Linked DNA regions of Homo sapiens. Changing the gene in region 1 together with any one later gene gives a genetic interaction. Each region holds a gene or a part of one and is shown in the gene's direction. Other genes may lie near its edges. The genes, in order: KDM6A, ATM, HDAC2 and ING3.

What was found.
Region 2: changes in KDM6A (region 1) and ATM together harm fitness more than expected from each alone (negative genetic interaction), as found in Homo sapiens cells (one large-scale study listed by BioGRID).
Region 3: changes in KDM6A (region 1) and HDAC2 together harm fitness more than expected from each alone (negative genetic interaction), as found in Homo sapiens cells (one large-scale study listed by BioGRID).
Region 4: changes in KDM6A (region 1) and ING3 together harm fitness more than expected from each alone (negative genetic interaction), as found in Homo sapiens cells (one large-scale study listed by BioGRID).

What each region holds. Positions count from the first base shown.
Region 1 is NC_000023.11:44,876,840-44,884,968, forward strand, and holds part of KDM6A (lysine-specific demethylase 6A), read left to right. Parts: intron 1-8,129. UniProt on the Homo sapiens protein: Histone demethylase that specifically demethylates 'Lys-27' of histone H3, thereby playing a central role in histone code. Demethylates trimethylated and dimethylated but not monomethylated H3 'Lys-27'.
Region 2 is NC_000011.10:108,322,115-108,327,566, forward strand, and holds part of ATM (serine-protein kinase ATM), read left to right. Parts: intron 1-3,195; coding exon 3,196-3,430; intron 3,431-3,943; coding exon 3,944-4,111; intron 4,112-5,452.
Region 3 is NC_000006.12:113,962,422-113,970,550, reverse strand, and holds part of HDAC2 (histone deacetylase 2), read left to right. Parts: exon of another isoform or gene 1-71; intron 72-272; exon of another isoform or gene 273-850; intron 851-1,891; exon of another isoform or gene 1,892-1,917; intron 1,918-8,129. UniProt on the Homo sapiens protein: Histone deacetylase that catalyzes the deacetylation of lysine residues on the N-terminal part of the core histones (H2A, H2B, H3 and H4).
Region 4 is NC_000007.14:120,961,864-120,969,992, forward strand, and holds part of ING3 (inhibitor of growth protein 3), read left to right. Parts: intron 1-2,878; coding exon 2,879-2,975; intron 2,976-3,392; exon of another isoform or gene 3,393-3,608; intron 3,609-3,839; exon of another isoform or gene 3,840-3,970; intron 3,971-4,762; coding exon 4,763-4,834; intron 4,835-5,665; coding exon 5,666-5,785; intron 5,786-6,070; coding exon 6,071-6,228; intron 6,229-7,147; coding exon 7,148-7,341; intron 7,342-8,129. UniProt on the Homo sapiens protein: Component of the NuA4 histone acetyltransferase (HAT) complex which is involved in transcriptional activation of select genes principally by acetylation of nucleosomal histones H4 and H2A.

The sequences.
Region 1 (8,129 bases):
TCCCTTAACATATGTACGTATACATATATACACACGTGTACATATACATATATACACACGTATACATATACGTATACACACATATACATATACGCATATACACACGTATACGTATATACGCACGTATATGAATACGTATATACACGTATACGCATACGTATATACACACGTATACGTGTATACATATATACATGTATATACATACGTATGTATATGCGTATACACATATATGTATATATATGCATATGCGTATGTATACGTATGTACATATCTATATGTGTATTCCTTTTCCAGGTGTGCAGTTTATTCAAACCACTGATTTCTCATCGTCTCCCGAATGTTTTTGTCAGATTCAGTTATATTAGAGTCATTGAAAGAATTTTTTGTTTGTAGGATGGCCATTTGATATACAATGCCTGGGGTTTTGGATTAAAAAAATAAGGTAGTTAATACAATGTATTATTTTTTGGTAATGTCTTTAAGGTTGTAAACAGCTAGAGCCTGCGTAATTAGAGTTCTTGTGATATAGGGTGATCTTGAACAGTGCTCTTGAATGCTGACCCTTAATCTTCTGGTAATGTAATAATTCAAGATTCTTATTTTTAAAATTTCAGTGGAGTTATCGAAAACTAAGCAAAATATTTTAACAGAAATTAACTTGTGACTTTTTTAGTACATTTTTGAAAACCTTTTGGGTTTTTTTTTTTTTAAGTAGGGTAAGGATTTGAGTTAAAGTAGAATATATACGAATATATACCATAAATGTAGTAAGTTTAAATATAGTAGTACTACCAAGTATAGTTATAGTAATAATGCTAGGGGACTGGGGAATCTTATCTGCGTCAGGGAACTATTGCTAAAATACACAGTTTTGAACAAAGTATCTTATTTTTAAGTTTTTCTTAAATACTCTTATTGGAAATTTTTTTGGTAATTCTATTAGTAGAAAGATTATACAAAATACTTAGAAGTTATAGATTGTATATCACTTAAAAATGTATGTGCTTTTTTCCGTAGGACATATTAGCATTAAAACAGTTGGTGTTTTAAATTTTTTTGATAATAGAAGTAGTTTAAGATCCATTGAAACATATTTTCTTAAATTTGGTTTGCTGGCGTGTTTGGTAGGGGAAATTATTAGGTCAGTTCTAGAGGTGGCTTTTTTAAATTGTAATATTTGGATGTTGATTAAAAACATTCTCATTTATGTGTGTTTTTTGTTTGCTGGCACTTAAAGGCATACAGGTTGAGTATCCTTTATCCAAAATGCTTGGAACCAGATGTGTTTTGGATTTGGGATTTTTTTGGGTTTCAGAATATTTGCAGAATACATACCAGTTGAGCATCCCTAATCTGAAAATCTGAATTCCAAAATGCTCCAATGAGCATTTCCTTTGAGTGTCATGTTGGTACCCAAAAAGTTTTAGATTTTGGATTTTCAGATTAGGGATGCTCAACCTGTAAATTCATTTCCAGTGCTAAAGATGGCTAGTGTTTTGGTTAGAAAAGTCATGAGAGCCTGTCTCAAAAAACAAAAACAAACAAAAAAAGAAAGTAGCCATGGAAATAATGTCATGCTTTGTGTTTTAAAGAGTTTTCTAGTTTGGAAGATTGTCTTCTGAACACTTGCAGTCTTAATTTTTTACGTGGACAAAGTCTTATATACTTGGTATTTCCTAAAGTTTTGATTTGTGCCTGGTAATAAAGATATACTAAGATTATAGAACATATTTGCATATTTGGTCACAAATTAGAACTGCAGCAATACATAAACAGGCACTTTTAAAGTTCTGGTTTTCTTTTTCAGTAAATAGTTCTTTCTGTCGAATCAATTACAAATTGAAATAACTAGAGAGCATTTGACTGCCACCTCTAGATACTTTTTGTTTTTTTTTTTAATTTGAGACAGTCTCACACTATCCCCCAGGCTGGAGTGCAGTAGAGTGATCTCGGCTCACTGCAACCTCGGTCTTCCAGGTTCAAGTGATTCTTATGCCTCAGCCTCTTGCGTAGCTGGGATTACAGGTGCCTGCCACCACACCCGGCTAATTTTTGTGTTTTTATTAGAGGTGGGGTTTCACCGTGTTGGCCAGACTGGTCTCAAACTCCTGACCTCACGTGATCAGCCCACCATGGCCTCCTAAAGTGCTGGCTTTGCAGGTGTGAGCCGCCGCACCTGGCCAATATCTTAAGCTGTTAAGAAAAACTGCCTGAGAGATGAATTTTTGTGACTTAGGTGAAGTGATAGGTCATGCACTTTAAACCAAAATGAAAGTTCATTGCTTGGCTAGCTGCAGAGTAAGTCTTTTTCTGACTTAAATTATGTAACATTTAGTTTTTGTTTACATAGTACCAATATTCTGCATCTTTGAAAGGATTTCTGTTAAGTTTATTTTTACTTTGAAATTCATTGTGATGCGTTGAACTCTTTGAAATTGATGTTAATGACTGCTAACACTGCATTATTAATAATATTTTTGAAATGTGTTATCTAGAGAGCTAATTTATGTTAAGAAAACACTACCAGCTTGTCTAAGAATTGAAATGGTGGTTAGGCTGTTTAGGACTCACATGTATTATTTGTAGATTAGTTAATTAATAAAGTTTATTTAATGAATGCATAATTGACAGTCTTAAGTACTCATATTGAAACTTCACATATAATTTTATCAGTTTTCCACATTGGTTTGTAAATTATCGTGACAGTAAATTAAAACAGTATATTAATGTACACTATGTGCAAGCCTTCTATGTAGATAGTATGAAGATAGCATAGATATTTCTTGCCCGTGTTGAACTTAAATTCTTTAAGAGGGGTGAGATAAGTTTAAGGGTGACTAACACAGGACCATCTTTGGGAGAAGAAAAATGTGAAATATTCTGAAAGTTTATGAGAAAGGTAAATTTAACAATTCACAAGTTAGAATGGCTCTTAAAGATGGGGATTGTTTGTTGATTGTGTTTCTTGGAGATGGTATTTCTTGATTTAGATGTTAGCAAGGCATCTTATAATTTTGTTTAGGAAAACATGATTTAAAAATCACATTTTAAGGCTGGGTGTGGTGGCTCACACCTGTAGTCCCAGCACTTTGGGAGGCTGAGGTGGGCGGATCACTTGAGGTCAGGAGTTTGAGACCAGCCTGACCAATATGGTGAAACCACGTCTCTACTAAAAATATAAAAATTAGCCGGGCGTGGTGGCGTGCACCTGTAGTCCCAGCTACTTGGGAGGCTGAGACAGGAGAATTGCTTGAACCTGGGAGGCAGAGGTTGCAGTGAGCTGAGATGGTGCCACTGCACTCCAGCCTGGGCGACAGAGCGAGACTTCATCTCAAAAAAAAAAAAAAAAAATCACATTTTAGCTTTTAGCAGATGTTCAAAGGATGATCTGCTGTGTGTTCTGTCCTTCTTTGATTTCATTTTGTAGTAATATTTACCTTGTTATGAGTTCTTAACTTGAGATTCTTAAATGAGTGTTCATGGGTCAATTTAAATTCTCTGACAGAGTTTGGAAGGACACTCAGGATGACTTAATGGTCATCTTGGAGTACAAGACACTTTTGGGGTGAGAAGGAGGGGAGATTTTAAACTGTTTTATAGATTTCTGTACTGCTTTTTTTTTTTTTTTTAACACCGTAGACATATATTACCTTAAAAATAATACAATAAGGCCAGGCGTGGTGGCTCGTGCCTGTAATCCCAGCACTTTGGGAGACTGAGGCGGATGGATCAACTGAGGTCAGGAGTTCGAGACCAGCCTGGCCAAAGTGGCAAAACCTCATCTCCACTAAAAACACAAAAAATTAGCCAGGCGTGGTGGTGGGCGCCTGTAATCCCAGCTACTTGGGAGGCTGAGGCAGGAGAATTGTTTGAACCAAGGAGGCGGAGGTTGCAGTGAGCCGAGATCGCGCCACTGCACTCCAGCCTGGGCAACAGAGCATGTCTCCATCTCAAACAAACAAACAAAAAAAAGTACTCTGATAGTACACCAGAATGTTATATTTTGGTTGACTAAAAATGGGTTTAAACTACCATGTCTATAGTTAGAAGAGATACTTGTAAAGGCCTTTCTTGCATTTTAATTACAGTCTGAAGTTGGGATACTTTTGAACTTGATGTTCCTTCAGTGAGGGTAGGAGTGAATGGAGTAGAGATGTACCCAATTAGGTCCTATTTCTTTGTGTTTTAGATGGCTTTGTGACAGTCACTGCGCTCATTCTTCATTTTGATCTTTAGCATTTCATTGCTGACTTTATTTTGAGTCTGATTTGGCACAGGCTGATACTTGGGACCTGATTAAGAACTGTAACCTGGGCCGGGCGCGGTGGCGCATGCCTGTAATCCCAGCACTTTGGGAGGCCGAGGCGGGCATCACGAGGTCAGGAGCTCGAGACCAGCCTGGCTAACATGGTGAAACCCCGTCTCTACTAAAAATACAAAAATTATCTGGGTGTGATGGCGCGTACCTGTAATCCCAGCTACTCGAGAGGCTGAGGCAGGAGAATATTGCTTGAACCCAGGAGATGGAGATTGCAGTGAGCCGAGATCGTGCCACTGAACTCCAGCCTGGCGACAGAGCAAGACACCATCTCAAAAACAAAAAACAACAAAAAAACTGTCACCTGGAAGGGTGGGAGTAATCCCTTGTTAGACAGTTTTAGGTTTCTGAGCTAATTTGTAGACTGCTTGCAACTTTCTTCTATAAGCTTTTATTATTTTTTCTCTTACCTATTTCTTCCTTATATTCCATCATTTGTTTACTTCTGTATATTATTAAAACTGTTGGTGGTGTTCCATTGTGAATGTATTCTTGTATGCTTTTTGTAATTTTCTCTGTGGTACTATTTTGTCTTTTTTTTTTTTTTGAGATGGCATTTCACTTTTGTTGCCCAGGCTGCAGTGCAATGTCGCAATCTCGACTCACTGCAACCTCCGTCTCCAGGGTTCGAGCGATTCTCCTTCCTCAGCCTCCTGAGTAGCTGACATTACAGGTGTGCACCACCACGCCTAGCTAATTTTTGTATTATTAGTAGAGATGGGGTTTCACTGTGTTCGCCAGGCTGGTCTCCAACTCCTGACCTCAGTTGATCCCCCCGCGTCGGCCTCCTGAAGTGCTGGGATTACAAGCGTGAGCCACCATGCCTGGCTGAGTATTTTGCCTTTGTTAGAATAAATAGAAGATGCTGCTGCTAAGTTTATTCTCAGGAAGAAAGTTGGGGTTATACTTAAGGGTATTATATAAGGTCATCTAATTCATTTTAGTTTAGAACAGTGGAAGAAATTGTTTTAGACAAAGGGTTATTTTTAAACTACAAATTTATTACGTGTTCATTAGATTTTTCTCTCTTTTTGAAAAAAAAGTTTATTAGGAAAAATTTTCAGTGTTTTCAGAAAGTATTGCAAATCAACCATCACCCAGCTTTAATAGTTTGCAACTCATGACCAGTCCTGTTTCATCTATATATATTTTGCCCCTCACTCATGTTATTTTGAAGCACATCTCAGCAATCAGTCACAGCATTTAATCCATAGATGTTTGTTTCTGAAACATAACCGTGATGCCCTTATTACATGTAAAATAATTTCTTAATCTCAAATATCTGTGGACCTTGTTTTTTGCTGTATGGAAGTTAAGAAATAATTGCTTGGAAAATGAGTAGAAAACATGTTTAGCTGAGTATGTGATGTGAATTTTGTTTGTATTTTGATACTGCTATAGTGTTCTGTGATAGAATATTACATAATATGTGACACAAGAGGTAATTTTTCCTGAGAACTTTATGAATCATAGTTGCTTGAGTCTGGATAGTTTTTATTTTTAGGGAAAATTTGTTTTCAAGATACAGTAGTTAAATAAATATTTTAGGTTTCTGAATTTCAAATATCAGAATGAGAACTACAAAAGCTTTTGCTTTGCTTGATTGATTGGTGAAACATTTGTTGAGCTGCTGTGGGTGAGGGATTGTGTCAGGTTCTGGGGCAACCAATAAGACCTGGCCTCTGTCCTGCAGTCAGTCTGTTGGGAGAGGCTGACAGACTGAGTGATCATATGATGTATTAAGTGTAATAATAAAGATACATGCAAAGTGCTGTGAGCTCTGAAATGATGGAGTAATTAAAACATTTAAAACTTTTTATTATGCATCATTTAAAGTATGTACAGGTATTGAAGGTAGTTTAATGAACTCCTGTTTTCAACGGTTCTCCACATTTTGGAGCAGTTAAGTTTTTTTTTTTTTTTGAGGCAGGGTCTCACTATGTCAGCTGTCACCCAGGCTGAGTGCAGCGATGCTATCTCGGCTCACTGCAACCTCTGCCTCCCAGGCTCAAGCAATTCTCCTGTCTCAGCCTCTTGAGTAGCTGGGACTATAAGCGTGAACCACCAAGCCTGGCTACTTTTTTGTATTTTTTTGTAGAGACAGGGTTTCATTATGTTGCCCAGACTGGTCTCTAACTCCTGGGCTCAAGGTATCTGCCCGTGTCAGCCTCCATAGGTCCTGGGATTACAGGTGTGAGCCACTGTGCTGGCTGGAGCAGTTAGTTTGTTTTTTGAGACAGAGTCTCGCTCTGTCGTCCAGGCTGGAGTGCAGTGGTGTGATCTTGGCTCACTGCAACCTCCACCTCCCAGGTTCAAGTGATCCTCCTGCTTCAGCCTCCCGAATAGCTAGGATTACAAGCGTGCGCCACCATGCCTAGCTAATTTTTTTGATTTTTAGTAGAGATGGGGTTTCACCATGTTGGCCAGGCTGGTCTTGAACTCTTGGCCTCAAGTGATCCTCCCGTCTTTGTCTCCCAAAGTTCTGGGATTACAAGCGTGAGCCACCCCGCCTGGCCTGGAGCAGTTAGTTTTGACTGGAGAAGTGACTGAGGGAAACTGCACAAAGATTCAGCATTTAGCCTTGGTTATGAAACATGTAGAAATTTACCAGACATGTAGATGTAGCAAGAGGAAAAAGAGGGTAAAGAGTTAGAAGTATAAACTGAGCGTGGAGGCTCACGCCTGTTGTAATCCCAGCACTTTGGGAGGCCGAGGCTGGTGGATCACCTGAGGTCGGGAGTTCGAGACCAGCCTGACCAACATGGATAAACCCCATCTCTACTAAAAATACAAAATTAACCGGGTGTGGTGGCGCATGCCTGTAATTCCAGCTACTTGGGAGGCTGAGGCAGGAGAATAGCTTGAACCCGGGAGGTGGAGGTTGTGGTGAGCCGAGATTGCACCACTGCACTCCAGCTTGGGCAACAAGAGTGAAACTCTATCTCAAAAAAAAAAAAAAAAAAAAAAAAAAGAGTTAGAGGTATAAAGTTAAATGGTGTTTGAGGAATTGTGAATAGTCAGGTATGGGTAGAGGGTAGCATGTTTCAGTGGGATTGGGAAAAGATAACTGAACATGTGAGAAGCCCCATCACTATAGGCCGTAGGATGTTTTGGGGCATTGTTAAACTGAACTCTCTAATCAGGTGAAGTGACATGACCAGAAGTAGGTTTTATGGGAATATTACTGGCCACTGTGAGAAGGATATGGTGTAAGGGAAAGGAACTTCAGTACCGATGGGTAGATAGCAATGCATGAATTTTAGGATAGAATTCTGTTCCTACCACTTACTAGATGTGTGATCCTTGGGCAAGCAAGCATCTTTCAGAGCCTCAGTTTTCTTATCTGTAAAGTAGAAGTAGTAATACATTTCCCGCAGACTATTGCATTTTGTGTTAGGGGAAAAAATGTAAAGTGTGTGGCATTGGGCTTGGTGCATGAAAGGTGCTCAGTATAAGATAATATCTTGGATAATGGTAACGTCTTGGAAGAGACGAGTTTAAACTAAGGCTGTGGTTTAGGAATGGGGTGAGATGGAGGCAGACTTAAGAGCTCTTGAAAAAGGCCTTTTCTTGGCTTTCATAACATCCTTGCTACTTTGACTTTGTATCTGACAACATCTCAGTCTTTGCAAGGATGCTGTGTTTTAGGTCCTCTTTACTCACCCTGTTCCCAATTTACATACATGTTTGACTGCCTACTTGACTACCTTGGTATCTTGAAGGTATCTCAAACTGAACATATGCAAACTGAATTTATAATTGTCTTTAATATTCCTTGTCTTAGTAAATGTCACTTACCACTACCCATGCC
Region 2 (5,452 bases), on another chromosome or scaffold:
ATTGTTGTATACCTAGTGTTTTTGTTTTGTTTTCTTTTTTTTCTTTTTATGTTTTTTTGAGACCAAGTCTCGCTCTGTTGCCCAGGCTGGAGTGTCATGGTATAATCTCAGCTCACTGCAGTCTCCACCTCCCAGGTTCAAGCGATTCTCCTGCCTCAGCCTCCCGAGTAGCTGGGATTATAGGTGCCCCGACAATGCCTGGCTAATTTTTCTACTTTTAATAGAGACGGGGTTTCGCCTTGTTGGTCAGCCTGGCCTCGAACTCCTGACCTCAGGTGATCCACCCGCTTCAGCCTCCCAAAGTGCTGGGATTGCAGGCGTTAGCCACCATGCCCGGCCCCCAATGTTTTCTCTTCTGGTGACTGATAATTATGTTTAGTAAACATTCAGTGGATAGTGGATGTCAGTTAATTTGTAAAAGGTGTTCAGAAGGAATTGCTTCTTATAATGGTGAGAGGGAAATGATCCAGGGATTTTGGAAGATGAAATAGTATAGTTACTCAGGATGCTGTAGATCTAAATTCTTTCCTTTTATCAAGATATAAGTTGATTAGCCCTAGAGAATTGTGCTTTTATTAAACATTTTCCAAAATAGTCACTGTAAAAATTCAAGTTTAAAAAATTCAGCTTAAAAGTGCTTTTCTCTTTATAACTTTTTCCCTGGCCCACCCAGATAAAATTGTTTCCTCATGTTTTTGCACAGCATGTTACACTCCATTCGGTTTTAGCACTGCATTGCATTACTGTCATTTTATCTCTGCCTTGCTACTAGATAAAAGAAGTGGAAGAGTTGTGTAAGGGCAGCCTTGAGTCTGGCAGGATGACAAAGTAAAGTGTTTTGGGTCCTCAGTTTCCTCATTTCTAAAGTCAGGGATTTGTATTCGATGGTCTCTAAAGCCCCTTTTAGCCCTGCTATTTTGAATTACTATTATTATTATACGAGGGAAGAAAGAGGATATAAATGACTAAGGTCACTCTACCTTTATGCAAAAATAAAATTTGGAATATGTTTTGGAAGTAGAAAAGAGAAGGAAATTTTAGAGTCAGAAGAAAATAATAATAGTTTTTTCAAAATGACATAGCAGAAGACATACATATTAATGTGGCTTAGGAGGAAAATAAAGGAACAAAAGTCTTTTCTGCTTTCATTCATAAGTACATTGGCAGTACTTACTGCCAGAAATCAAGAAATTTTTCCTCTGAATGAAAGATTATCCTGCTGAAAAGAGTACAGAATTCTTTAAGAAACAGTGAATAGAATGGTAGTAACCAGAGGCAGGGAAGGGTGTTGTGGAGGGAGAGGATGAAGAGGGGCTGGTTAATGAGTGAAAAAACACAGGTAAATAGAAGAAATAAGATCTAGTGTTTGATAGCACAATAGGGCAACTGTAGTTAACAGTAATTTACTGTATATTTTTAAATAGCTACAAAAGAAGATTTGGAATGTTTCCAACACAAATGATAAATGTTTGAGATCATGGATATCTCAATTACCCAAATTTGATCATTACACATTGTATGCTTGTATCAAAATATCACACGTACCTCATAAATATGTACAACTATTATGTATCCATAAAAATTAAAAATAAATTTTAAAAAGAAACACCTAAAGAATAATCTGGCTGTTTCTTTGGTAGAGAAATAGGAAGAAGAGAAGCAGAGGGAAGGTTGGATGAACTGGTGCACAAATGCTTATGCTCTCAGATTACATTCCATTCATATACATCAACCAAAACATTAAATAATAACAAACTAAATGCAGAAGCAGAGATAAGAATTCATCTCGTTCTGTTAATCCAGACATTAAAGAGATTTGCAAAAATGCAAAACAGTGCCATGCTCACTAAGTTTTGTTTTGTTTTGGGAAGTATACAGTTGAAATTCTTTATCTACAGGTTTCCATCTATGGATTCAACCAACCGCAGATCAAAAATATTTGAAAAAAAAATTTTAAAGAATAGGGTATAACACTTATTTACATAGCATTTACATTATAGTAGGTATAATATGTAATTAGAGATTTATGTATAACCTGTGCACATTCTCCTATTACACGTAATCTAGAGGTTATGTGTAATACTTTTTGGAAATGTTTAATAAAAGCACAATCTAGAGGTTACGTGTAATAGGAAAATGCCCTGCCATTTTAAATAAGGGACTTTGAACATCAGCATTATCAAGGTGTCTTGGAACCAATTTTCTGCAGATACAGAGAAACTACTGTAGTTATTTTTCCTAAAAATTGTTATTTATGATATATAGTAGATTTATTATTTTTGAATAAATTAATACATTTTAGATTTTTCTCAGTCTTTCTAATATGATATCATATCTAATATCAGTAGATATGGTCCAACGATCGAAAGTTCTTTGGGGTCTTCAATAATTTGTTTGATTGTAAAGGAGTTCCGCAAAAAGTTTGAGACCTGCTGTGGTAGGGTCATTTAGAGAGGAATTGAAGTTTTGGTTCCTAGCATTTTTGTTACTGTTCCTTCCCTATCAAGCAACTAAAAGAGCTTTCATTTCTTAGTCATCACTTTGTCATCTTACTCTCCCTGCTTCCTCTTTCTTATTTCTTTCAATAAATGTCCCTGAAGGATTGGGTAGTATTTCATAGTTCAGTTATTTGGGAAGGATACTATTCATATAAACTAATTGTGCAATATGCCTTTTCTGTTCCTTTAATAATGTTGGTAAATGAAACCTTTGCCAGATGCCAGCTTTTCCTTCACTGGATTGTGATTTTTTTGACAGCTATAATTATGCATCAAGTCATCCCCAGTAGGGGGTCCCTCATTTCCTTGCTGACATGTCCTCATTACTACAGGCAGTATTGAAGCAGGACTAAAGATGGAGGCATTCTTTATGATAGGTCTGATGAATATGTTCTTGTTTCAGAAGAGTATTTAGAAGGGCTGCTTTTTGTAATGTCAGAGTATTAAAAATTTTTTTTGATGTTTGTCATCTGTGACCTCTCTGCTAATAACTCTTAAGAGCTCTGACCGCATAGCATTTTGTAGTTTTCTAAATTTTGATCCATATGTAGGATTATTTACAAGTTCTAGTCTTGTCACTACAAAAGTTCCTTTGTATTATTATAATATTATATCGTAAGTTCCAGAACTTACATAGTTTTTTTTTTTTTTTTTTTCATTTCTCTTGCTTACATGAACTCTATGTCGTGGCATTCAGATCAGTCACACATAGACAACTCTCTGAAGTATATATTAAGTGGCAGAAACACTCCCAGCTTCTCAAGGACAGTGATTTTAGTTTTCAGGAGCCTATCATGGCTCTACGCACAGTCATTTTGGAGATCCTGATGGAAAAGGAAATGGACAACTCACAAAGAGAATGTATTAAGGACATTCTCACCAAACACCTTGTAGAACTCTCTATACTGGCCAGAACTTTCAAGAACACTCAGGTAAATACAATTTAAAACTATGTCATCTTACCTCTTGACTTTCCTTTTATTATTTAAAAAACAGAAAGCCTGAGGGAAAAAGAAATGTCATTAAGAGATAGAGATCTCTATTAATATATAGTAAAAATAATTGTTTAAGAGTTCCCATTTTGGAATTAGATCTGACTTTTAAGCCTTGGGCAAGGGTACTTAATCTTTTCTCAACCTCAATTTCCTGGTTATAAAATGAGAAGATACGTAACTTACTATATTGATAACAATTCAGTGATTTTATATACTGTGTGTATGTACACACAGATACACATACATACATATAGAGAGAGACAGACAGACAGACAGATAGGCAGACGTGGGGTGGGGAGATGTCATGCAGACAGAGAGGTCCTTAAGATAGTCCCTGACAAGTAGTTAAGTCCTCAATGAATGGTAGTTGCTGCTTTCATTATTATTATTATTCATGGTAGTAGTATCAGTAGTAAAAGTATTTATTCCCATATGTCATTTTCATTTCAGCTCCCTGAAAGGGCAATATTTCAAATTAAACAGTACAATTCAGTTAGCTGTGGAGTCTCTGAGTGGCAGCTGGAAGAAGCACAAGTATTCTGGGCAAAAAAGGAGCAGAGTCTTGCCCTGAGTATTCTCAAGCAAATGATCAAGAAGTTGGATGCCAGCTGTGCAGCGGTTTGTTTTTTTTATTGGCTGGATTAGTGTTTTACTGTTATTTAAAAAAACACAAATGTACTTTAAAATATTTTTAATAACAATTTTATTAGAGCCTTGAAATTAGTAATTTATTAACAAGATATTGTAAAACTAGTCTTGAAAATTAATTTGTAAATGAAGTTTAGAAACTTTTTCCTATATATCACAATTCTATCAGTCCATCATGTGGTCGATTCATTTAATATATCCCAGTATTAAGCCTTTAACTTCCTATAGAATTCAAGAAAGGTATGTGGGAAATGAATGAAATAGCTACTCTAAATTTGAAATGACAAGTGAAAAAAGGGAAGAGGAAATGAATGAGAGAACTAAATTAGAAAATAAAAGCAAGTTGGGACAATTAGGTTGTCAATCCAAATGCTTTGAAAATATCACATCTAATATTTTATCTAACATTACCTGTTGGTTTTTGCAAACTTATGTTGCTACTTCAGCTGTAAACCCAGCATACACACTGGATAAAGTAGAGGCATTGGTGTCCCCAAGGTTTGTCTACAGTGGTGTCCCACAGACATGTACCTGCTTAGTGAATATCAGCTCACTGTGCTTTATTATTTATTTATTTATTTATTTTTTGAGACGGAGTCTTGCTCTGTCACCCAGGCTGGAGTGCAGTGGTACGACATCGGCTCACCGCAACCTCCACCTCCCTGGTTCAAGCAATTCCCCTGCCTCAGCCTCCCTTGTAGCTGGGATTACAGGCACATGCCACCATGCCCAGCTAATTTTTTTGTATTTTTAGTAGAGATGGGGTTTCACCATGTTGGCAAGACTGGTCTCGAACTCCTGAGCTCAGGCAATCTACCCGCCTTGTCCTCTGAAAGTGCTGGGATTACAGGCGTGAGCCACCACGCCCGGCCTTTACTGTACTTTTTGATGTTGGGCACTCATTGTATAGCATCTTCTGTTATTAGAGAAATCATTATACCAAAGCACTGAGTGCCAATATGATATGTGTAAATATTGCTTAATAGTATTGGCCCTGAAGTATGTGCTGTCTGGAGTTACCCAACTTCCTTGTACCTCAGTTTTCTAATCTGCAAATTGGGGTAATAATAGTACTTATTTAATAGGATTCTTGTGAGAATTAAATGAGTTAATATATATAAAGCCTTTACAAAGTGTCTGACATATATAAGTACTCAATAAATGTGACTTGCTCCAATAATGGCAATAATAATAATAAACAGAGGATGATCATTTCCTACATGGGATTATTAAAATAGTTGTATGGCAAAAGCAGATGAGGAAAAACTTTTTTTTTCCCACCCACCAAGGAAAAACATTTTTAACCTGCTT
Region 3 (8,129 bases), on another chromosome or scaffold:
TTGGTGGTGGCGGCGGCGAAGGGGGCGGCCCATTCTCTCCCTTCTCCCGCCCACCATTCGTGGCAACGCAGGTTTGGGGTGCCCCGCGTCGGCCTCCTACCCCCTCGACCCGTCCCCCGCGAGGCAAAATTTCTATCCCGGCCTTGACTCTACACAAAGCCCCGCGGCCGCGAGAGCTCCGCCCCTCCCGTCCCCTTCCCTCCTCCTCGCCTGCTCGCCTCCCCTACCCTGCGTTCGGTCTGGCCGGAGCGTCTTCTCCTTCCTCGGCTTACCCTTTCCCCGGACCCCTCCTCCCGGTGGGCGCTGGAGAGTAGTTACTGAGGGTGGGGGCTCAGGTCGCGTGTGGCTTTATCACACCCATGTTTTGCGTGGGCTCCAACCCTCTCCTTTGTTCGCTGGGTTCTTTGAGCGCGTCTTTCTCAGGATTCAAATGGAAGGGCTTCACTTCCTCAATAATAGTTCGGGTTTTCCAGTTTCAGGCAGAAAGACTTCGTAGGAAATAAGAGGTGGTAGGGAGATGTGGAACTGCTACTGCTTGTGTTGTAGATCAGACTCCATGGGTCCTGGCTTGCCTCAGAGAGGTGGTTACCACCCACTTCTTTGTTGCTCTTTGTTCGATCAGGAAATAGACCCTGCTTTGGGGATTTAGAGAGCATTGGTATCTTGCAAAGGCTGTTCCTAGGTGGTGGGGAATCCTGGTATGGGAAAACTTTGAGAAGTGGGAGAAGTGCAGAAGTACTAAATATTCTAATGAGGTAAATTTGAGGTCACCGTGTAGTGAATTATAAAAGTCAGATAATTTAATTATCTTAAGCATTCTATAATTTGGAGTATGAGCAGTAACATTAAATCTTCGAATCCTGTTTCCTGTGTTTTCTTGCTCAATGGAGTAGTAACCTGTTATACAGATTTCACAAAGGCTTGGTAAATAGTTTATAGTAGGTTACTCTTGAGAGAAGGGATTCCAAAATTTAACAGAGAATCTATCCTAGGCTCCTTCTCCTGAAAGTCCTGTCTGATTTGTAGGAAGCAATACAAATTTTGGAAGCTGTTTCCTACATGTGGTGTATTGTAAATCACAAAATTTTAGAGAAGTAAGACCCCAGAGCACCAGCTCAGAATAAATCTACTTTAACTTGTAAATGACCGTACTGTCTCTTTTTAGTTAAAAAGGATTAATCTTTTAATGACTGATACATATAAAATAACCACCTGTGTCATTTGGGGAAAATCTGAAATCTTACAGAACAAATCTAAATTGATCTGCGATAGCTAGGACAGAATAATAACAGCCCTACTTTTAAAAATGATTTTTCAGAGGACTAGATATGCATTATATAAGTTGATTTGAAATTATGCCATCGTGGAGGGGTGGAGATGGAAATACATTTTAATTTCAACATGATTTACATTGCATATTTTGGGTTATTCTTGCCCTGCATTCCCTGATCAAATTGGAAAGGAAGTAACCCTGCGTATAAGTTAATTTGTAAAATTACATTGTTTCTAAAGTTTAGAGATTTATCCTTGTCAGGGCTTGGAGTAAAGAGGAAAATTTTGGTTAGGGAAAGTGGTACTGAGGTCCTTCTCGAAGCTGTCAGTTGGTGTTGGTAGTGATGGGCTCTGAGGAAGTAAGCTGCTTGTAATTTGTTGTCACCACAATGGAACCCTAGAACCAGGAGGGTACACTTGAGTAGCAGTTTCTGAACAGCGCTCTTGTCCTGGGCCCATTTATGATAACCTTCGTTGTGGGAATGGGAGCAGGCACGGGTACCCGGGAAAGGATGCAAGCTTGATAAGTAGGGTGGAAATATTTGTCTTGTGATTGTGACTTAATATGATACTTTATTGTAGCCCATTCACCTGCTTACGTGATGGCCAGCAACAAGTGAATAGCTGATAGTTTGGAAATCTCTGGTGGGTTATTTTGTCTTTTGTCTGTGACTCGTTTGTTAAAGTGGAGTTCCTAGTTGCTTATGTTTCACATACTCTTTTAATTTTTGTGGGAGGGAATTAAAATATTTTGCAGAGATTATTAATGTTTATATTATGCTAATTATTAATATGTGATAGTGTGCTGACCTCATCCAAAAACTTATATTTTTATTACCAGAGAACATTGTTTTGTCAGCTTACAAAAGTAGCAATACTAATTCTTTTTTTATTGTGAGAAGAGAATGCAAGGAAAGGAGCTTCTGTATCAAAGAATCGTGACTTTAAGGTATATAACATGGATTGGATTGGGAATGGGTTATATCTGTAGTAATAGGGTCTGAATTATCTGCTAGCCTAGGTTAGATGGTTTTAACTTCTTGGTAAAGGAAGTAGAAGGAAGAAAGTGAGTGAAAAAGAAAAGGACGGAAGTAGCAAATTCTATAACCATAGGAATCCTACCTTTAGGCTTCCTGGGGCTGTTAGGCACACGGAGCCTCTTGGCCACACAGAATGTCTGCCACTGAGGCTGTTTGCATCTTAATGAAAGAACTTTTAAATATATACATATTGTTCTCTGCACGTTATGTAATCTTCAGGTAACCCTTTAGGTCACTGAAACGTTGGTCCCAAGGGAACCTTCAGACATTGATGGATTAGGTATCCTTAAACCTTTGAAGAAAAGTAAGAGAAGTTATTACTTCTCTGACTGTAGCTATTGATCCATGCCTCCAAATTCCCAAAAACATACTTCTGAATCATGTTCCTTCTTTATACACTAGAAGATCATCAAGAATCTGTAAAATGATACAGCTAATTAGATAGTCACTAAGATCCCTTCTGGGCCTTAAAACGATGTGATTTTTCTCTACTTAAATATAATTAGCAGCTAAGCTGTGTTAGGCTCTAGTTATACCACTCACATTTTTAATACTGTATCTAGACATGTTTATGCTTTGTTTTGAATTAATCTTGAGGCCAAACATATTTAGTGCTTGTTTTTATGGTGTATACAGTATAATAGGGTTTATATACCTAATTTATGTAACTATACACAAATTTCTCTGTGCTCTATTTTTTCCTCCTCTGAGAGGGATGCATAATCAGTTTTGGAGACAAGTGGTCCAGAAAAAAACACTCAAAGACTGTATACAGATAAAACTATATAAATACAAAAGTTATCAAGATTAGGCCAGGTGTGGTGGCTCATGCCTATAATCTCAGCACTTTGGGAGACTGAGGCAGGCAAATCACCTGAGGTCGGGAGTTTGAGAAGAGCCTGGCCAACATGGCGAAACCCCGTCTCTACTAAAAATACAAAAATTAGCCAGGCGTGGTGGCAGGCACCAGTAGTCCCAGTTACTCGGGAGGCTGAGGCAGGAGAATGGCTTGAACCCAGGAGGTGCAGGTTGCAGTGAGCCAAGATAGTGCCATGGGCAACAAGAGCGAAACTCCGTCTCAAAAAAAAAAGTTACCAAGATGATACCTCCCAACGTACTCCTTCTTCAGCAAATTATAGAAATTCTACTTGGCAGCCAACGATTGTCAGATTTTCTTAGACTTGTATTTATGAGTAGTACCAAAGTCTTTTGCTGAATAACCTTTAATACAACTACATGGGTTCTTAGCTGTGGTATAAATCTTTATTATCCGTGAAATAGGTAATAATTTCTTTGGAGGCAAATAAGTGCTAAATTAATTATAGCAGCAGTTCATAAATACCAGTAATACTAATTGCACAATAAAACATGACTAAATAAGACTGAAATTTTCCTATACTTCTCTTTCCCCAGAAATCTTTTGCCTCTCTTTTCTTTCAAATTTTACCTCATCAGAGATGCTTTCTCCTATTACCTAAGTCCCTGTTATTGCCTTATTTTTCTTCCTTTTGGTTGTACCATATAACTTTTGTCTCTCTCCTCACTATAACATAAGCTTCATTAGGACAGTCTGTCTGTTTTGCTTGTGTTTGTATCTTCGCCAACTACATTTAAAAACGTAGCTTTTTTTTTTAATTAGTGATGAATAAATTATTAATTCCTTATACTTTTTTTTTTTTTTTGAGATGGAATTTTGCTCTTATTGCCCAGGCTGGAGTGCAGTGGCGTGATCCCAGCTCACTGCAACCTCCACTACCCTCCCGGGTTCAAGTGATTCTCTTGCCTCAGCCTCCCAAGTAGTTGAGATTACAGGCACGTGCCACCACCCCTGGCTAATTTTTGTATTTTTTAGTAGAGATGGGGGTTTTACCATGTTGGCCAGGCTGGTCTCGAACTCCTGACCTGGGGTGATCCACCCACCTCAGCCTCCCTAAGTGCTGGGATTACAGGCGTGAGCCACTGTGCCTGGCCAATTCCTTATTCTTATAGATAGAACGCTTTCATATAACGTTCCCTCTAATTCTTGAAACTACTCTGAACTACATTTAGGTAGGATGGGTGGCATTTTGGCATTTTTGGTATTGTTTAGATGAAAACAGATTCACATTTGTTTGGTGCAGTCTACCACTTTTCCTTTTCCACACTGACTGTAGTTTTAATGTTCAAGGAGAGTTCAACATCCGGAATCTTTATTTTTCTTTTTTCCTTTTCAAAGTGTTTCCTCTGCTACCAAACAAACAAAACTCCTTAACAAAAACTTTAAATGCTTCTGTTGACAAGTCCTTAAAGGAAAACACTTGGGATTGGAGAAGGCATCTCTTAGGGAATGTTAATAAATTCAAACTTGGAAGAATTCAAATCAAGTCTAAGGATTTTTTTGTACTGGTTATTAAGCCTTATTCCTCTGTATTTCAGTAGCAGTCTGCTTATTGTTACTTGTTCATTAAGCCAGCTTTGGGTTCAGACATATCAAATAGGCTTAAAGTTCCTACTGTGTGCCAAATAGACAAAAGATTGCTCAAGTCCTAAGAAGGAAATAAAAGACTGCAGGTATAAAGTAAGAGAGGGGGCCGGGTGCAGTGGCTCACGCCTATAATCCCAGCACTTTGGGAAGCCGAGGCGGGCAGATCACAAGGTCAGGAGTTTGAGACCAGCCTGGCCAACATGGCGAAACCCTCTCTCTACTAAAAATACAAAAAAAAGTTAGCTGGGCATGGTGACGGGTGCCTGTAATCCCAGCTACTTGGGAGGCTGAGGCAGGAGAATCGCTTGAACCCGGGAGGCAGAGAGGTTGCAGTGAGCCGAGATCATGCCATTGCACTCCAGCCTGGGTGGGTGGCAAGAGCAAGACTCTGTCTCAAAAAAAAAAACAAAAAAAGTAAAAGAGAGGGGACCTTTGATAGTGTAATCAGAAAAGGGAAGACCTGAAGGAAGAGAATGGGCCAGCCTTAAAAAGAGTTTACTACATAAGATATTACAAATAGCAAAGCCAGATAGTTATTAATAGAACTTGGTGCACTTAATGGGAAGGAAGACAAGGAAAATGTGGAGTCCCATGTTAGGCAGTAAAAAGTGGGACTGCACAAAACTGTGTAGTAAGAAATTTGACTTTACCCAGAGGTGGAAAGCCATTGAAAGTTTCTCAAATAGAATGCATTCTCTCAAAATAATTGGTAAGGAGTTGTGGAATATAGGCTGGAAGCAAGAATTGAACACATATTGGTCCATATAAAATGTAATGGTTGCATTTTAGATAGAAATAGACATATTTAAGAGAGATTTGGGCCTCAAACCAATAGAACTTTTTGATGGATTAGAAATGGAGTTGGAGCTGAGGAATGGTGTTAGAGAATGAAGGATGACTCCTAAGTTTCTGGATTGAGCAGTTAGGTGGTATGTGGTACTACTCACTAAGATTGGGAATACAAATAAAGAGCTCTGTTTTGAACATCTTATATTTGAGATCCTTATTGAATTCAAGTGAAAAGACTGAGAAGAGAGTTAACCTCTGTGAGTTTATAATCCAGAGAGGAGAGTCTAGACATAGAAATTTGGGATTTCTCAGCTTATATCAGGTGAAGTATTGAGACTGAAAAAGATACAGCATAGACAGACGACTGGTCCCAGGACTTAACTCCCGAGAGAAGAGAATTTAGGGCAGAACTATTGTTCACTGATGAACCCAAACCCTTAGAACAGTACCTGCTTGGCACATGGTAGGCTCTTGATTTATTAAATGAATGGCTGAACTGAAAACCCTTGATGTTTAAAGGTTGGTGGAGGAGTGGCCTTGGGGTACAAGTAAAATCCCAAGAAAATGGTATTATGGAAGCCAAGGCTCCGAATGTCTCAAGGAGGAATAACCTCCTTGAAATATGTATTAAAGATGTGTTAATATGTATAAAAAATGGATAGTGGGCTAAGTAGTCTGGAAGATGAAAATAATAAACTTTTTTCTTTTCTCTTGTTTTTTTTTTCCTGAGTCTCTTTTTGCAGTCAACTTATCTTTGTGGCTAAAGGTACATTTCACAGTTCTGAAATCCAAAATGACCTGAAAATTGAAAAAAATTTTGGTAACTCATTTGGAATCAAAATCTTAACCTGAATCAATGTGAGGCTATTTATGATCTTTATTCCTCTGTGAATACCGTGAATATTCACACTTTTTTGCTGTAGAAATATTAATGTTTGATTATATCATGCCACCCAAACTCTAGGCTATTACATAATATATGGCAGGTGTACCATATTATCTCTACAAAATCTGAAAAAGTGTAAAATTTGAAACATATCTAATTTGAAGGAATATGGATAAGAGATTGTGGACCTTAGTAGACACTTCCATTCTGTTAGTTTCTTGAAGAGTGAGCAATTTGTAAAATTTTGCAGATAAATAATTCTTTACAGTAATTTCTTTGCATTGACAATTAAAGTTTGTTGTGTTCAAGGAACCACCTTGAGCTGATTTTTCTGAATGTTTATTTCATTGGTAAAGTATTTTTATGTACAGGTTGAATATCCTTTATCTGAATTCTTGGGACCAGAAGTATTTCAGATTTGGGGAGGTTTTGCAATATTTGTAATTATTTACCAGTTAGCATCCCTAATTCGAAAATCAAAAATTTGACATGCTCCAGTTAGCATTTCCTTGACTATTAAGTTGGTGCTCAAAACAGTTCAGATTTTGGAACATTTTGGATATCAAATTTTTGGATTAGGGATAATCTGTATTTTGATGCAAATCAGTAACATTTAAAATGCCCAAATTATTAATACATTACTGACCATTTAAATGATGAATAAAAATTGTAGGGTCTTAAAACTTCTTAGCCTTTTTATACTTTATGAAAAAGTGGGCTGGGCACAGTGGCTCACATCTGTAATCCCAGCACTTTGGGAGGCTGAGGCGGGCAGATCATCTGAGGTCAGGAGTTTGAGACAAGCCTGGCAAATATGGAGATACCCCGTCACTACTAAAAATACAAAAATTAGCCGGGTATGGTGGTGGGCGCTTGTAATCCCAGCTACTTGGGAGGCTGAGGCAGGAGAATTGCTTGAACCCCAGAGGTGGAGGTTGCAGTGAGCCAAGATCACATCACCGCACTCCAGCCTGGGTGACAAGAGCGAAACTCCATCTCAAAAAGAAAACAAAGTGGATGCCTACAAAGTAGCCATCTAGAGAATTGTGAGATACAGAATTAGTGGGAAAAAGTTGGAGATGGTTATTTTATAACGCCTTTATATTTTAGAAGAATTCTTTTTTTTTTTTTTTTTTGATACAGAGTCTCGCTCTGTCACCCAGGCTGGAGTGCAGTGGCACGATCTCGGCTCACTGCAACCTCCGCCTCCTGGGTTCAAGTGATTCTCCTGCCTCAGCCTCCTGAGCAGCTGGGACTACAGGCGCATGCCACCACACCTGGCTTTTTTTTTTGTATTTTTAGTAGAGACGGGGTTTCACAATGTTTGTCAGGAAGGTCTCGATCTCTTGACTTCGTGATCTGCCCGCCTCGGCCTCCCGAAGTACTGGGATTACGGGTGTGAGCCTCCACGCCCAGCTAGAAGAATTCTTGGTAAACCAAAAAATTATCTGTAGCTTGGCTGCCCTGTATACATGTATCATTTAGGTTCTTTGTGTATTCTTTGTGGGACTGGGGTCCCTAAATTTCAACAGAGAAACTTGTTGAAAGCTATGCGTATTCGTATACGATTTGAGGACCCTATTAGTAAAAAGTAAATTACTCTGATATATTAGGTACAGTTTCTTGTGTTCATTTTCTTTAAATTAACCAAGACCCTAAGCCTTTATTTAAAATATTT
Region 4 (8,129 bases), on another chromosome or scaffold:
CTCTGTGGTTAGCCCTGTTTTAGGAATCTGTGGCTAATGGAAAATCTCTCAATTGGATCAGTACCCTCTTTACTATTGTAAATCAGTCTTATGAAAGCAGATGTTTGTGGAAGGGTGAGGTAACTTACATCCTTGCTTTGCTTGATGCCTGTGGGGACAACATGGTGATCAGCTAGAAGAGGTGCTGTAACCGTTCAGAATCATGTAGGTTGAGGGAATGCACATGATGGATTTCAGGCAAGTTCACAGCTCTTATTATGGCTGTTTAATATTGTTTAAATATCCTAGTGCTTTATAGCTTAAGTTAATTCTTGTGGTCAATGGGACTTTCCAACTTCTAATTTGATTTAGTACAGCAGTAGTAAATAGAAGAAAAATAATGCTCATTGCCTAATAATTGCTTATAATATTAATCAGGTCATAATCTCTTTTACATATGAGGAAGTAAGAATGATTGGAAGCCGTCTTATAAAGATGCCTACCACAAGTGGTTAAGGCTTTTCTGTCTTTGTTTATTTTAACTATGAATTTGGTTTTTAGAGTTATTAACCCTTTAGGTTCTAGTGCCTTTTCTGAGCTATCTAGTATTGAAAGTCTTGTCATTATTTTTAACATTTTCATATGTAGTGAACTTTATCAATAATATATTTAATAAAATGAAACAATCCTTAAATGCAGAGGTGAAGTGAGTTAGGGCAAGGTGTATGGTATGAAAAAGAAAGGTCTTTATCTCACCCTAACACTACCCCCTCAACCTAACATTCTTGCTCACTGTGCTTTATATACATATTACACGCTACATCATACTTTGTTTTTCTCTAAGCATACTGTTTGTCTTTCTGTCTCTACATTTTTTATTGTGATTCCTTTTTTCCTTCTATTTGAATACAATCCATCTTCACCGTCTTAATTCGTACCTCCTTCGTGTCTACCAGTGTTACTTTTTTATGTACAACTTCTGACTCTTTTTGAACTGTTGCTTATTTGTGACATCTAGACTATATTTTTATCCCTTATTATATTAAAAATCATATATAAATCTTGATTTGTCAGCTAAATTCTAATTCCTATGAAGGCAATGATTCTCTTCCATTCTTCATATATCCTCCATTTAATCCAGCACCAAGCACGTAATAGCTCAATATTTATTATTAGTATAATTGTAGGTACAAAAAGCAATGGAGTGTTTTCGTTGCATTAGTGGTCTTGGAACTTAAATATGAATATTTTTTCTGATTTCCCTTGAGATTAAATTTTGACAATGAAAGAGGTATGCTCAAATAACAGACGTCTGTGTTCACACTATTATTGGAAAGGAAGTTCCATTAAAGGATGCTCAATTACCTGCAGATTCTTTGAATAGGAGCAAGTATCCATAATATGTGATGTTATAGGTTTTTAAATATTCTAGAACTCTGAAAAGTAATGTGTGTGTAAAGGTAGAAGGAAAACTGGCTTTCAGTTTTTGAAAAAATCACAAACCAACACCCTAATGATTGTTGTTAATATATAAAATACAAATAATAGGACAATATTACTAGTTTTTATACTTGAGTTATATTATTCTGAAGAATGTTTTTCAAAAAAAAAACAGTTGTTTTCTGCATGCAGAAAGTTCAGAGGTCAATGTCAGGTAAATGGCAAAGCAGAATTTGTTACAAATAAAGTTAAATTTGGTTTCTGTAATGCATTAGCTATATGACCTTGGGCATATTACTTAAGTAACCCTTCCGAGCCTTAATTTCTTCACCTATAAAGTAGAGACAGTAATAACTTCAAAAGATCAGATCGAGGGCTAGAAAAGATAGGTCATCTGATGCGTCAAGCACATTACCTCCTCTTCATAGGCATCTAACCCATGCACATTGTGTTTTGCTACCTTTCTCCCCTTCTTCCTCATGTTAGTTACACATTATTTAATTCTAAACCTTACTTAAAATGTTGCCCTGGTAGAGTATCATAGCACATGTTGATATCTGTAAGAAAGTTATTTCTAATTCTAGCAGTAATCCAGTGGGAAACTAGACTTAGAAAAGGATGTTATCAATAATGTGACATGAATATTTTTCAAAGAATTTGTGTATTTTTTGGTTTCACTTCAAAGTAATGAGTTTGAAAAAATATTAAAATATTTAATATTAAGTTTAAAAAATACATTAAGACATTTTTTGTTAGTTTGAAGTGTCATATAATTTTCTGAAATTAGTCAAAAGATCTCTCAGTGACAAAATAAAATTTTGCCAAGTTAACTAGGGAAATAGTATTATAAATAAAATAATTTTAACCAGATCCTTTGAGGAATGGAGTTTTCTGGCTAACAATCCCTTTTGTTTCACCTCTTCACATAAATGTTTACAAGCATTATGATTCACTCTCATGCCTTAGAGTAATAGATGTATAGAATATAGGAACTTCTTTGTAGACTGAGGATCTTTCATCATTCTAAATAATAGCTTTTATCGTATGACAGTGTGGATGATGGCCTTATAAGCAGGAGGAGATTAGGCTCTAAGTAATCACAGGGCATATTATGAAAAGTGACCAGCCTCCACCATCCCCTCCTCCCATTCTCTAATCCCTAATCAGTTTTGCTTTAATTTTCATGTCCTGACTTCTGAAAATGGAGTATAGAACATTTCCTAACAAGTTGAGAGTCTGGGTCTTAGAACTTAAAATTTATTGAAGGAGACTTGGGAGATTATTTAGCCTAACACCCTCATTTTATAGATTAAAAACCTCTGAGGCATAGATTAATTGACTTGCTCAAGGATACTAAGCAGATTCACTAAAAGAAACAAAAATTTAGGTTTCCTCATTAAGCTGACACTTTAACAGTGTCCCAAATTTTGGTGGTTATCTTTGATCTTCTTTGAAACAGGTAGATCGACACTTGAGAAAGCTGGATCAGGAACTGGCTAAGTTTAAAATGGAGCTGGAAGCTGATAATGCTGGAATTACAGAAATATTAGAGAGGCGTAAGTAAAATTTACAGTTTTCCATCAATATTGGACAGTACATGTGCAAATCGCTGAGAAGACCTTGTCCCACAGAGGCTTTTGAAATCCTGCCCTTCAATGGATGGTGGCATCCAGGCCAGATAGCTTGGACCCTAACAGTTGGAAATGTTTGGGTCATGCATACTGAGAGAGATAATATAGGATATCATCCACTCACTCTTTATGAAACAACATATTAAATCATTTTATATCCACATATACTAGTAAGTTGAGTGGTAAGAACAAATTTAAAGAAATGTAACCATCGGGAGACAAATTAACCATCTTGCATTAAGTGTGTTGACTTTACTCTGCCTCTTTATACACTTAAGCTTTGAGGAAAGTTGTTAGTTTCTCTTCTTAAGAATTACTTTATGGCTTTTCCTTAACTGCATATACTGAAAAAGACTCACATTGGTTTCATAACACTACCTCTTTTTCTTAAAGAAGTGTTTTCTTCTTTCCCTTAGCAGCAAGAAACCATTTTGATATTTCTTTGCAAGGCTCTATTTGATCTCCTGCTATAACTTACCCCTGTCACTTCTTTGGTGTGACTTCCCAAAAATGGAAGCATGAGCACTGTTTCCTTAACTAATTTAGCATTTCTTCAACCTAAATAGGTAATGTACATAAAAGCAGTTAGTGTGGTACTAGGTGTAGAGTAGGCACTCACTAGATGTTAATTGAACCAAATTAATATTATGGCTAATTTCTACTAGAATTTAATTAAAACTTACAAACCTTCTTTTTCTTGGTGCATTTCAACAGTAAGAATATGTACCTGTTTCTACACACAGATGAAAGATTTCTTTACAGTGCCAATCTATGTATCTCTCTACTCACTAGAAGTCAGCTAGGGAAGCCAATCACAGATCTGTCTTGGTATCCATAGTTGCATTTTTGTGTTCAAAAGTAGATCCATCACTTTAGATAATCATCCTATTTATTTGTGATACTTTTCTTCTGGAGGAACCCTATATAAAGATAATAAGTATTTTGAGACAAAATTAAAAATTCTGTATCTGCTTTGATTTTTTAAAAATGCTGATGATAGCTGTGAGTAATGATAATTCATGCCTATTCAGTACTGCAGGAAGGTTAATAAAGCATCCTCTCTAAGGACACAGACATATGAAACAAAATTGGATCAAGTTATAAAAACTGCTCCACCCTGTGCCCTGCCATAATTTCATCTCAAGGGATCAAAAATAAACCCAGAAAAATGTATTTAGAGGTATTTTAAAGCTTGGTGTTAGAGATTCTATTCCTCACTTTTTGCGAACAAAATCCCTAACTTCTTTTAGGAAGTCTTTATTATCATAATGTCATTTTAATGATCAAATAATTTTTTTCATATAGTAATGTCCCCCATCACGTAGAACTTCAGAATCTCCCATTAAAAGGTCTTCAACTCAGTAAAACTAGGTTGACTCTTACCAGTAATGAGATTACAATGTCCATTCATCCATTTATATGGCACCCACTATGGTGAATTCCCTAATTAGACACGAGTATGCCTTGAGCCATTTTGTACTTAAGATTAATATTGGGAAAAGGATAACTTATTGTTTAGAGAGAGGATAACTCAGTGTGGGATGGACAGTGGTGATCCTCTAACATGTCTGGCTAAAATAAATACAGGCATATGCATCAGAACTTGCTAGTCCTCTGCTGGGTAAGGGAACTCATTGCCTGTAGTTGAGTGACATGTGAAGTTCTGCGGTGACATTTAATGGTGGTGTATCTCTGTGCCTCTCTTCTTTTAGGATCTTTGGAATTAGACACTCCTTCACAGCCAGTGAACAATCACCATGCTCATTCACATACTCCAGTGGAAAGTAAGTTTGGTGTAGTGCAGCTAAGTTTTAAAAACAATGAAAACCTTATTATATCACCTATATGTTCTCTTTTTTTAACTCTACACAACCAATTGAGAAATAAATCCCTTCTTTTTTTTTCATTGCAAGTACTGGCAGACTTGTCTTTTTCCTTGGGGGGAGCATATGTGATTCGGAAATGAGTATTCTGTTTTCTCTTAAATGCGTAGAAGGAGAATGTATAGTACTAATAGCATATATTCCCTTCATACACATACCTGATTCTCCTTAGGGAGCTTTTCAACTGAGCATTCTCCTTAGGGAGCTTTTCAACTGAGCCAAACAATAAGCTATTTTGTAATAGGCCCTTTGTCTTTTTCATCCTTGCTTCTCCAGTGCTTAACCTAATGTTTGGCATATAATTAAGTCTGAATGGTTGGTAAGTCAGTGAGTGGATGAATTGTTAGTTAGATGACTGGCTGGCTGGTTGGTAACAGTCAAAAAATGACTATATCAGTACATCTTTTGACACATCAATTTGGTGGGAAACTATTTTAAGTGGTAGATTGTGTTTTGAAAACAAAATTTCCCTCACATTGTATGTGAGCCCATGGTGTATCTTGGGTTATCTTTAGTACTTTGCTAGAAGTTTTTTAAATGGTGGAGAAGTCTACTCTTAATAAACATGTGACACAGAGTTCTGCTTGTCCTGCCTTCTGAGGAAACATCATGTTCTGTATTTTATGAGGAACCCAGATCATACTGTTTCACATTTTAACTGGATATAAGTATTATGCCTTGTCCATAGTTCTCTAAAGTTTAAAAACACATGAATTTTTTATTTATATTTAGAAAGGAAATATAATCCAACTTCTCACCATACGACAACAGATCATATTCCTGAAAAGAAATTTAAATCTGAAGCTCTTCTATCCACCCTTACGTCAGATGCCTCTAAGGAAAATACACTAGGTAAGTTAATTTTCTTAAATATGATTGCTTTGTTTGTTTGTGTTAGAGTAAGGGGAAATAAAGTGTTTCAGGATTAATGAATCATACAGTTTCTTTACCTGGTTAAAGTATACATATGGAGAAAGAAGAAAAAGGAAAACCAAATACATTATTCAGTTGACTTAATGTACAAGTGACATTAAAAATTTTAATGATTATATGTCTGTGCTGGGAAATAATGTAATTTAGACTCACTAACATTATGTTCTCTGCAACCATTTTTATTTCTTTTTTACATCTACACAGGTTGTCGAAATAATAATTCCACAGCCTCTTCTAACAATGCCTACAATGTGAATTCCTCCCAACCTCTGGGATCCTATAACATTGGCTCGTTATCTTCAGGAACTGGTGCAGGGGCAATTACCATGGCAGCTGCTCAAGCAGTTCAGGCTACAGCTCAGGTAAAAAGTAAAGGGTTTAGAGACAAAATGTTACATTTTGTCGGAATCATTGGAAACCTAATAGAAATAACGGGATGTGAACAAATAGTTTTCTAACGTTGTATATTTTCATTTTTAAGTCATGATTTCACGATATGTGATATTTTATTTAATGAAATAATACATAGGAATTGCCTGATTGATAATGAAAACTAAAAAATAGGTTTATCATGCGGATTACATGCAGACCCTTCTCACAATAACTGCTCATGTTGCCCATGTTCTTGACTGCAGTCCACAGCACATGCTAGCATAGTTCTTCGTTCTTTCTGCCAGTTCCAAGGCTTCCCCTGTAGCCTTGGACTTAGGTCATCTTGAGTTTGTTCACTTCTGTATAGTTTGCCTATATTCCAAATTAAGAAGCTGCCCATCCCATAGTTTATATTCTAACTGTGTAAAATCTTATTTTAAATCTTTAAATGAAAAAGGTTAGGCCAGGCATGGTGACTCACACCTGTAATCCCAGCTCTTTGATAGGCCGAGGCAGGTGGATCACTTGAGGTCAGGAGTTCAAAACCAGCCTGGTCAACATGGTGAAACTCCATTTCTACTAAAAATACAAAAAAATTAGCTGGGTGCCTGGTGGGTGCCTGTAATCCCAGCTACTCGGTAGGCTATGGCAGGAGAATTGCTTGAACCTGAGAGGTGGAGGTTGCAGCGAGCCAAAATCGTGCCACTAGACTCCAGCCCAAGCGACAGATTGAAACTCCACCTCAAAAAAAAAAAAAAAAAAAAGCTTAAATTCCAGTGATGAAAATAATAGTTTAAACAATATAAATTAACATTTGATAAACCAAAATAAAACTATAATTTGTAAAACTTGAAAAAGAAAATCTACATATTTACATATATTGATGCTATCAATGAATGTCTATTTAAGATGAAGGAGGGACGAAGAACATCAAGTTTAAAAGCCAGTTATGAAGCATTTAAGAATAATGACTTTCAGTTGGGAAAAGAATTTTCAATGGCCAGGGAAACAGTTGGCTATTCATCATCTTCGGCACTTATGACAACATTAACACAGAATGCCAGTTCATCAGCAGCCGACTCACGGAGTGGTCGAAAGAGCAAGTAAGTTTTATTGTTACAGTAGCCCTATACCTTTACTGAACACTTGGTCTACTTGACACTTCAGCCAGGCCTCTCTATGTTAAAGGCAGGATATAACGGATTAAAATTAACCTTGCAGAGGTAGGGAGACATGCGGTTTTCATTTTATAGTGCCATACTTTGAAGGTGTCAAGTCTTTAAAAAGTGTTAGAGTTGTTTTTAATTTTTCTAGAGTCATAAATTGAGTTTGTTAATACATGACTTCTTTTTATCTTCTTTTATTCATTAAGATAAATCATTTTATGGAACTGCTTTTCATTTATTACCCTTTATTTTGCCATGTGTTTCAAGGTAAATTAATGCAATGCAAATTATATCCTGGTGATTTTTTTTTTTTAAACAAGATTTTTCATTTTGATTAACAGCAAGCAAGGCGTCTTCATTCTTAGTCTTGGGTCCCAAAAACTGATGGTGTAAAAATATCCCTAGATTTTGTATATGAGACTTGGGATGACTGTATAAGCTTTAAATATGAAAACCTAATAGCATTTATCACTGTCTATCCCAGGTAACTGAATATGCTGGGTGTTTATACATAATGAAAGTTCAAATGCTAGGCCAAAATAATTAGTTACCTAGTAGTTATATTTTCTGTATTTTAAAATATGTTATATTTTTTGTGAATTAATCCCTTAAAGAACGATCAATATGAAATAACCACAACAGAAGTGTCAAACATCTTAAAAATTAATTCATCTTAATGGTACAAGTTTAATGTAATTTCTTATGATAAAGTTCTATACTTTTAG